Linked DNA regions of Homo sapiens: region 1 is linked to region 2. Evidence: fine-mapped expression QTL. A gene starts in region 2. The other region holds a variant in brackets. All regions are shown on one strand. Distances are between the middles of the regions.

What was found. PIP is the estimated chance that this variant, and not a neighbour inherited with it, causes the effect.
Region 1: its variant is the best candidate, but not a certain one, in a credible set for the expression of LAMTOR3 in esophagus muscle (GTEx, PIP 0.70).

Annotation. Positions count from the first base shown.
Region 1 is chr4:99,846,863-99,852,245 of GRCh38, forward strand. All of the region lies in intron 3 of DAPP1 (dual adaptor of phosphotyrosine and 3-phosphoinositides 1), which reads left to right. Among named protein-coding and RNA genes, the nearest start is that of DAPP1, 33 kb to the left of the region's middle. The variant C/T (reference allele first, on the strand shown) is at 2,435.
Region 2 is chr4:99,891,521-99,896,903 of GRCh38, forward strand. LAMTOR3 (late endosomal/lysosomal adaptor, MAPK and MTOR activator 3) reads right to left here and starts at 2,907. Exons shown (of 7, transcript NM_021970.4): 1 at 2,815-2,907; 2 at 2,435-2,480; 3 at 480-514. The coding sequence starts at 2,443. DNAJB14 (DnaJ heat shock protein family (Hsp40) member B14) reads right to left here. Exons shown (of 8, transcript NM_001031723.4): 8 at 4,728-5,383. RefSeq lists a silencer at 3,006-3,095.

The DNA.
Region 1 (5,383 bases), 45 kb before region 2:
TAAATGAACAAGGCTTAAAGTCCATTTGCAGAGCAGGTGGCAAAGAAGGAAGGAAAAAGATCTTGAATAACCCTATTCTCTCCCACCAACCCCAAGAAATCTACTTCTCATTGGAAGGAGGGGAGAGAGGAACTCATTATGCCAGTTGCAGAGCTTATTTTCTGAACCTGAGGGCAGTAATGAAACACGGATGGACATGATCTGATTTTAATTTAATTCAACAAAATGTTTTGAGTGAAATGGCCCTGTGAGCCACTGATAACATAGAAAGATAAATCAGATATTATTCTTGCCTTCAAACACCTTACAGGCTAGCTGGGGTACCTGATGAATAAGCACTGACCTCACTGCATAAAATAAATACTCTAAACAAAAGTTTTTCTTTAGGAGTTTTGTGTACCCTGTGCTACACTCTATTTCAGATACCAAACCAATGCCTAAGAATTGAGACTGTTCTTACTCTCTTTCTGAGTTCCTGCTGGAATACAAGATAAAGGGTCCTTCAATGCAATTTCATATTATTGCATACAGTTATATATGTAACTCTTACACATAACTGTAAGTTACCATTCAGTCAAAGTAAATGGAAATGCCTGCCTTGGTCCAGCTCTGATCATCTCAAAAACATACCTCCGCTAAGCATGGCTGAAACCAGGTTTCATGTCAAAGGCAGGAAACAATAGTCACCTTTACGTAGTTCAGAAACTGAAGTGAAACTTATAGCCAAGTTTCCAAGGCCTGTGGTTACTGGTCTTCCTCATTCTTCTTGCTCTGCTACCCCTGCCTCCTGTTGCCTTTTTCTAAATCTCCCAGCTGAGTCCTGGAGTTCATTTGGTCTGAATCTCAGTAACCCAGGGTCCCTTTCTTCCCGAGCTGAGGCACTAACTTGGACCTTGGAGGCAAAGTATTAAGAGTCTGTGGTAGCGACAGTAGATAAGTTTGTTTGTTTGTTTGTTTGTTTGTTTGTTTTGAGACAGAGTCTCACTCTGTTGCCAGGCTGGAGTACAGTGGCGCCATCTCGGCTCACTGCAACCTCTGACTCCCTGGTTCAAGCGATTCTCCTGTCTCAGCCTCCCGAGTAGCTGGGATTACAGGCATGCGCCACCATGCCCGGCTAATTTTTGTATTTGTAGTAGAGACGGGGTTTCATCATGTTGGCCAGGATGGTCTTGATCTCCTGACCTCATGATCCGCCCCCTCGGCCTCCAAAAGTGCTGGGATTACAGGCATGAGCCACCGCGCCCGGCTGATAAGTTTCTTTTGATTGGAAATGACAGAAACCAGCTCTGGCTAGCTGGGTTTTTTTGGTCTTGTTTTTGATTTTGTTTTTAAGTGAGTAGGGTACAAGAACAGGGAACAGGAGCAGAATTTTTTTTTTTTTTTGTGATGGGGTCTCACTCTGTTGCCCAGGCTGGAGTGCAGTGGCACGATCTCGGCTCACTGCAACCTCCGCCTCCCGGGTTAAAGGGATTCTCCTGCTTCAGCCTCCCAAGTAGCTGGGACTACAGACGCATGCCACCACGCCTGGCTAATTTTTGTATTTTTTTTAGTAAAGACGGGGTTTCACCGTGTTAGCCAGGATGGTCTCCATCTCCTGACCTTGTGATCCGTATGCCTCGGCCTCCCAAAGTGCTGGGATTACAGGCATGGGCCACCGCGCCCTGCCCAGGAGCAGAATTTTTTAAAAGGATATTAACAATATACCCTCCCAGAATTTAAGGGCAAGTTGAACAACCAAGAGACAACAAGGAATCTGCTTAGTAATCATGGCAAGTCTGAGGCTTTCAGTCAATTGATGTGTCTGTCTTGATTCATCTCTGATCGTCTCAGAAGTGTACCTCCGCTCAGCCTTTCTGAAACCAGGTTTCATGTCAAAGGCAGGAAACAATAGTCTACTTCATGTAGTTCAGAAATTGAGTTGGTGGACCTTCTCTCTAGAGAAGCAATTAAGTGGATCCCCAAGAAGTGAATCCAATTAGTGTGACCAGGTCAGGTATTCGAGGGCCGGGCCAGGTCTGGAGGTATAACATGGTTATAGGGAACCTATCTCTGTATACTGGGAGGTACAATCTCTGCAGAAGGGGAAATCATTAAGCCTCACAGCCATGCCAAGAAGTCTGTATATTGGCTCTTCCTTGGGCAAGAATAGTCATCTAAGGAGAACTGTCTTTTAGGACACCAGATTTTTATCAGTATAAGTTGCCGTTTTATAAGTACTTTGTCATCTTCATCTCACAATTTAGTTTAGCCTCATTTGTGGGGTTACTAGTTAAAATCAATCTACAGTCAGTTTTACTCTCTTGGTTGACTCAATGCCATTTTCCTTTGTTTTACTTTTGTTGAATTAAACTTTAGAGGAGGTTTTCAAAATAGAATTTGGGTTCCTCCAACAGAGATTTGAAAAGTTATGCCTGCGGTTATTGTCCTTTCTTGC[C/T]TCAGGCCTGGAGAATTGTGGACCTGGGAGGCTGGTTCATCCCAGGTTCTTTCTTGGTTCAAGCCTGCATTACTGTAGCATTCATTCATTAATTCATTCACTCATCTGCCTTCATTATGTCAGAAACTCTATCAAGTGGTAGGGATACAAAGATAAATTTGACTGATAGGTGCGCTGAAGAGGCTCACAGAGGTTGGAAATGCACACGTTGGAAAGGCAGTGGCTGTCTAATACCAAGAGGTGACAGCACTGCAGGCTCAGGCAGCAGCCCAGCCCAGAGATCCTTACCCTGCAGCGCAACTGGCCCCGGTGGCTATTTCTCCTCCAGGGACTGATACTGTGGTAGGAGGATAATGCCCCCACAGGACGTCCACATGTCTCCCTGGACCTGTGAATATATTGTTACATGGCAAGAGGGAATTAAGTTTGCAGATGGAATTAAGGCAGCTGATCAAATAACTTTGGGGTGGGGAGATTATCCTAGATGGTCTAAGTAAGACCACTGTAATTGACAGGGTCCTCATAAGTAGTAGGGAGCCAGAAGGGAGAGAACCAGAAAGATGGCAGCAGGAGAAGGATCTGACTGGCTGTTACTGGCTTTGAAGACAGAGGAAAATGGCCACAAGTCAAGACATGAGGGCACCTCTGAAAGCTGGAAAATGCAAAGGAATGAATCCTCCCTAGAGCCTCCACTAGGAAAGCAGCCTTGCCAGTTTTAGACTAGTGAGACCCATTTCGAACTTCTGACTTCCAGAATTGTAAGATGATAAATCTGAGTTGTTTTAAGCTGTTATGTTTGTGGCAATTTGCTACAATAGCAATAAAAAATTAGGCCAGGCACAGTGGCTCACGCCTGTAATCCCAACACTTTGGGAGGCCGAGGCGGGTGGATCACCTGAGGTCACGAGTTCGAGACCAGTCTGGCCAACATGACGAAACCCCGTCTCTACTGAAAATACGAAAATTGGCCCGGTGTGGTGGTGGATGCCTGTATTCCCAGCTACTTGGGAGGCAGAGGCAGGAGAATCGCTTGAACCTGGGAGGCAGACGTTGCAGTGAGCTGAGATCGTGACATTGCACTCCAGCCTGGGTGACAGAGCAAGACTCCGCCTCAAAAAAAAAAAATTAACACAGGTATTATTATGTGAAGTGTGTGCCTGGTCGTATCAACTAAGTACATCTTTCTGGAGTGTCATTTAAAGCATTATTTTCATATTAAGTATTAAATATATGAAGTAGAATGAAAATTAAGCATCAACTTTGAAGATAAAGTATAAGAGTTCAAAATGTATCTAATTTGGGAGCTGCTTTGATCCCTAGGCTTCAGTTCCCCTCTCCTCTTCTGTAAGGTGAAAGTGTTTGAGAGGCACCAATTTAACTATAGTTAATCACAAGTAGTGATTACTAGACTACCACCATTTTTATTCCTAGCAGAATGTTGCGTCTAGGTCTTTTTTAAGATTTCAAAATCCATGTCCCCAAAGATGCAATCATTCAAATTTTATTTAAGGATTTAAAAATATTCTGTCAAAGAATAATAATATCTAATATGTTATCATTCTCCCACAAACATTTATTTGGTGCCTTCTGAAGGAAGCATAATTATTCTCACTAGTAAGGAGCAGAAGCTTGTAATGGTTGTCCAAGGCCGATAAGTACTGAATGGCGGTAGTGACAATTGAACCCTGTTCCTCTGCCTGTGCATCCAGTGCTCTTTCCAAGGGTCCAGAGTGACTATGAAGCACATCACTGGGAGTGTTTCTTAGGGTTGGGAGCCAGCGCTGAATTTACCATGCATCTACAATGTGAGCACTGTGTTCACAGAGCCCCTGAGCCTGCACAGCAGCTACTCTTGATATAGGTACTGCTGCTTTCATTCTGACTGTAAAACTGTAGCCGGCCCCTTCTCCTCATATGACTGGATCTGTTCTTATGGGAAGATCACATTGACAAAAGAGAGCACAATGTGCAAGAATGGGACGGTTCTGATAATGGCAAAATCTGTTTTTCATTGTGATCCCAATGCTGCAATGCCAATGAGAGACAGAAAGAGGAAGGGCCAGAGGCTTTCATTCTTCTCTGAGGTCGAGATCAGACACCCTCTTCTGGCTTTTCTCAACAGCTTTTCATTTTACAGCAGCACCTTATCTGGGCCCAAGTATCAAAAGCCACAGTTCTGTTTTTGCAGTCAGACATTGTATGTATTCAAGTATCATAGACAGGTTTTGTTTTGTGTAGTTTTTTTTTTTTTTTTTTTTTTTTGAGACAGAGTCTCACTCTGTCACTCAGGCTGGAGTGCAGTGGTGCGATCTCGGCTCACCGCAACCCCCGCCTCCCGGGTTCAAGCAATTTCCCTGCCTCAGCCTCCCGAGTAGCTGAGACTACAGGTGCCTGCCACCACGCTCGGCTAATTTATTTTTGTTTTTATTTTGTATTTTAGTAGAGATGGGGTTTCACTATGTTGGCCAGGATGCTCTCGATCTCCTGACCTCATGATCCACCCACCTCAGCCTTCCAAAGTGCTGGGATTACAGATGTGAGCCACTGTGCCCGGCCTGTTTTGTGTAGATTTATCATTAACATTAGGGTGTTTTTTAACCACAGAGGAGACATTTTTCTTTTTCATTTTCTCACTCTTACTCTAATTCAGGTTCTATACTCTCCAGATCTTTCAAATCTTTTCAAAGACGCCCTTCCTGATGACCCTTGTAAAATATCACCCTCTCCCAACCCTACCTTTTCTATTCTCTATCCCTTTACCATGCCCTATTCATTTTTTCCATAACACTTCTCACACATAAAATATTTTTTAAATTTTTTTTCTGTCTCCTCTACCTAGAACATAAGCTCGATAAGAGCATTTAAACTCCTTTGTGTGCTATTGCATTCCCAGTACCTAGACAAGTGCCTGGCAGAGTGCAAAGCTCTGTAAATATTCGTTGAATGAAT
Region 2 (5,383 bases):
TGGTCACTGTGCATCTGTTATGCAGCTCATGCAGAGATAGCAAAGCATGTAGTTTTGTACCTCCTTGTCTCCCAATGATAAAGTATGTGACATTTAGAAAAAGAGATAATAAAAAGAGGAAACTGGCCAACAAAGACGAAATACAGCAAAGAAATGAAAAGTAATAATGCTGAAATTTCAAATAGAAATGCTGAATTTCAAATAGAAAGTAAAGAATTATAGAAGAAACAGATGACCAAGGGAATGCTGACACTATCGCTCTAGATACACAGAGAACTCAGTGAAGGCAAACTTATTGACATAAATGAGGAAAGCGGTTGTGACGAAAATTTTCCAGAGGACGTGAGGCTGGCAAAAAATATTCATATTAAAGGAAATCTCAGAGATACTTCACAACATGGAAAATACAGACAAAATGCTTCATAAAATTAACATATGGCATATAGAATTTATTCAATAACAAATTAAAAATTTCTTACCTTGGTAACTTTTTATACAAGAATCGCTTTAGGTCCTGAAAGAGAGCATTAAAAAATAATGTTGTAATAATAGGCCTTCCACTGTTTTCTAGATCCTGTCCTATCCAAATTTTAAGGAACTTCAGTTATCATTCATAACCTTTCTTGCTGTGTTTTATCTTTCTCTGTCTGATTTGGATGTTTACTAGTCACGCAACTTGGAGTAAGTTAACCAACCTTTTTTCGCTAAGCTTATTTCATTATTTGTTGAATAGGGCTAATATAGAACCTACATCATAAAAGTGTTGTTAAAAGTTTATTGAGAAGATGCATGGATTAGCATACCTAGAAATGGGAAACACATTTTAGCCATAAAATTACATCATAATTTTCATACTAGTGTTTTACATCCTGTTGCTATTGTGTTCACTTGAGAAGACGTTATAAACACCTTTCCATGTTCAAAGATAGACTTTCCACCATCATCTTAATGGTCTTGGGTAAGGTGATATGACCTCTGTAAGACTGTTGTCTCACGTGACTATCACATTATAAAAATATGCCTTCCATTGTTTCATTATTTGTTGAACTCACCTACTCAACAAATAATGAAACAGTGTAAGGCATATTATTATAACGTAATTTTTAAAATATTTTGTTTAAGGACCTAAAATAAATTCTATATGACTATGTGAGGCAACATTTTTTTTTTTTTTTGAGACGGAGTTTCGCTCTTGTTGTCCAGGCTGGAGTGCAATGGCGCGATCTCGGCTCACTGCGACCTCTGCCTCCCAGGTTCAAACGATTCTCCTGCCTCAACCTCCCGAGTAGCTGGGATTACAAGCACCTGCCACCATGCCCAGCTAATTTTTTGTATTTTTAGAAAAGACAACGTTTTACCATGTTGGCCAGGCTGGTCTCGAACTCCTGACCTCAGGTGATCCACCCGCCTTGGCCTCCCAAAGTGCTGGGATTACAGACGTGAGCCACCGCGCCCAGCCCAGTGTTACAGAATATAAAATAAATGACAATGTGTGTCAAGTGTTTAACACGAAACACAGTTAAGACTAAAGAAGTAGAAGACTATTTTATTTTTCTAAGCTGGGGCTCACTGCAACTTCCAACTTCTGGGCTCAAGCAATCGTCTCGCCTCACTTCCAGCATAGCTGTGACTACAGAGGTATCAATGCGCCTGGCTGATTTTTAAATTTCTTTTTGTAGAACGGGGTCTTGCTATGTTGCCCAGGCTGATCTTGAACTCCCGGCCTCAAGTGATCCTTCCATCTCGGCCTCCCAAAGTGCTGAGATTACAGACTAAGCAACCGCATTGGCCAGAAGACTATCTTATTTTGTCTCATTACACTCTCTTATCCCAGGAATTTCACTGACAATTTAGGTATCAATTTTGACCTCACATGGATTAATCAGGTATCTCTTGTTTTGAGCATCCAGCACTTACTATTCTCCAAACCCGACTGATCATTTTATCCTCCTACACACACACACACACACGTTACCATGTTTCTAAAGAGGCATGGGTTAGAAATCATCGTAAATTGCTACAATAAACCAAATGAGATATTGTTATCACTTACTGGAAAAAAGTATTGTGGGTACATGTCCTACTGACCAAATTCTGACAGGAAAAGCAGCAAACCATCATTCAGAATTTCAAATGGTAAATATACAGAGCCTCTCTTATGCCCCAGCTGGACTGGGGAGTAGGGAGAACCTAATTTTCTCAGTCTCAAGCACCTTAGTGTCCTACACCCCCATTCGAGGCAGAAACTCAGGATCCTGCAAATTCATTCATATTAGTCTCCCACTTCAGATATCAGAGAAAATAATTAACTGGGATGGGTGGGGCTGGGAGGATCAAAACAAATTTCTGTTTGGGAAGTTCTACCTCTCCCCGCTCAGTATGCCCCTCAAAATTCCCCACTCTCCCCTTCCTCTTATGTAGGGGTGTCACTCACATCCGCCATGATGAACCCCCTTCTCTCGCAGGATCAATCTCCACGCCTGGAAGAGAAACTCCCGGTGACTCTTCCCTCTTTGGCTTCCTCGTCCTCCCCACCCACAACTTAATACGCGAGATCAGCCCTGGTCAGAACCAGGTAAAACCCCCGCGGTTCTAGGGCTTGGCCCAGCGAGCCCAGTGGGAGTCGGAGTGCCCCAGCACCCCCACAGGTACTCAGCTGGCACACCTTACCTCAGCCCACCCCATCCCTGCCCCTCCACCCCAAAGAGCTAGGCCCAAAGAAAAGAAGAGAGGGTCCTCTCCTTCTGTTTAATCTCACCACCCGCGCCACCTGCGGGACTAGGCCTCAAAACCAGGCAAAGTAGCGCCAGTTACCTGGGGTTTCTGGGCTGCCTGGTTCTCTCCGCTGTCACTTCAGGGACAGCTTTAAAGACAGGTTCCTCCTCAAGCCACCGTCACATGATTCATGACCTCGTCTGCGCTCCAGGAAGCACTTTCTAAGCCGCCGTCGCCCTACGATACGGGATTTCCGGAGGGGCCCGGCGGAAGCTGCGAGGGCGCGTCCGGCGGCCGCGCCCCTCCCCTCCCCCCCGCCCCGCACGCGCCCCGCCCCTCCCCCGCCCACCGCGGGCCGCGTCTTGCGCCTGCGCCTTGTGTCACGGGCCGAAGGAAGTCAGCTGTGGGGTAGATTTGTACGAGATCGCTGGACCCTAAGGAACCCAGAAAATGCAAGCAAGGTTATGTGTTACAAGACATTCTTGTGCAGAGAGGGTGTATAAATGTCATTAGTTTTGCAGGGTCTGTTATCTTAAAACCTTTTCTTGTAGATGAAGAAATTTGAGGGGATGGTGTGATGAGCTGAAGAGCAAGCACCAGATTGCCTGTGATTGGAAGTACCAGGTCCACAGGTTTCTGACCTGTTTCCTAGGCTCTTGTGACTTCCCCATGGGTGCTCTTTACTGAAGGCCTTACCTAGATTGAATGGGGAGGAGCCATGGGTTTTCTGGAGCACTTCAAGCGTCTACTTTTAACATGCAGACACTGATTACGGGCACCTTCTATGTTCCCTTTTACATCAGAATTTTTAAAAATTAGTAAGGTCTCATGTAATAAATAATAATTGAAAAAAATAAAAGGCTTTCCGGGTGCGGTGGCTGACGCCTGTAGTCGCAGCACTTTGGGAGTCCGAGGCGGGACGATCCTTTGAGCCCAGGAGTTCCACAGCAGCCTGGCAAGATAGGACCCCATCTCTACAAATAATAATAATAATTAAGAATTATCCGAACGTGGCGTGCACCAGGTACTCGGGAGGCTGAGGCAGGAGGATCCCTTGAGCCCAGGGTTTGAGGCTGCATCGAGTGGTGATCGCCCCACTGAACTCCAGCTTGTGTGACAGAGCGAGACCCTCAAAAGAAAAGCTTCTTTAGAAATCGCATCCTCTTTCAGCTACCACACTGTTTTTCCTCTACTCCCTTTCATAGCCAAATTTTCAGAAAACTTTAGCCTGGTTTTCAATTGCTGCTTCCATATGTCACAAATCTAATCAGAGTTCTGTTGATTCTACCTCCTATCTTTGAAAACTATTCACCTATCTATATTCCTACCCTACTCCAAGCCATGATCATCTCTCTTTTGACAACAACCTCCTATTCTTCTTACATTCTCTTTTGCCCTCCAGTCTCCACACAGCAACAAAAATGATGTTCTAAAGACCCAAATCACATCATTTAACTCCTTCCTTGAAAATCAAGTTTATTGACTTAGGATAAAGTTCAATATCAGCATCATGGTTTATATATCATTCTTATGGGGATCTGGCCCCTATCTTAATTCTCTCACCTACCCTGGATTCCTTATGCTATGATCATACAAGTTTGTTTTCACTTCCATAAAGATTTTTATCACTTTACCAACTTAGCACGTTCTGCCTGAGATATTTCTCTAGCATACCTTAATCCTACTAATCTCATCTTTTGCATTTTGGCTTAAACTCACTCTCAGAGAAGCCTTCCCTGACCCTCACTGAATAGTTTAGGTCTTCTAGATAAATGCTTTCATTGTACCCTGTAATTTTCTTTGTAGAATTTATCATAATTATAATTATTTACTTGATATTTATTTTCTTTGCTAGATGTAAACTCTTTAAGGTTTTTGTCTTTCTTATTCAGTGATTAATTCCCAGCACCCAGCTCACTGCCTGGGATATAGCAAGCATTGACATACTTGTTGAATAGTTGAATGAATGAAAGAGTGGCCATATTGAGTATAAAACATGATAAAAACAAACATTTTACAGTGAGAACAGACCTTTTTATTAATATATTGAGATAAACTACAGAGACTGAAAGACAAAAATTCATATTTCATTCAGAACATTCATTAAAAATCAAATGCATTTGAGTTCTCACAGAAAATTTTATGTAAGTCTGATATAACATTAAATATTTTACAAATCAGACATTTCATTTTGAAATCTAATTTTTAATCCTGAATGCATTATAGACAAAGTAAGCTCTCCTTTACCAATTTCATTTAACTTATACAAGGCTTCCATTATAATTCCATCAAACCTTAAAAATTACCTGCAGCTTTTAAAAACACATAAAGTAAATGGAAAGAAAGTCTTATGTAGCAATCCAAAAACTAAAACTAGAAATTGGCAAGAAGCATTTCTTAATACAGATAAACTGCAAAATATCATTTATGTGTGTTTCTTCTCATTGGTTTAATCATCCTATTAAAAATAATTTTTTGAAAGTAATAATTACAATACTCCAATGTCACTGAAAATCTCTATGATTTTAATGGTGTCCTTAAATGGCAAAGTAGAATATCAGACTGAAATGTACAGAGTGTTGTGCTGAAGTGAATGAGACTTGCCATGCCAGGTGTCATCTGCTATGCAGTTACAAGACATCTTGGCAACTAGTCATCCCAGTTTTTA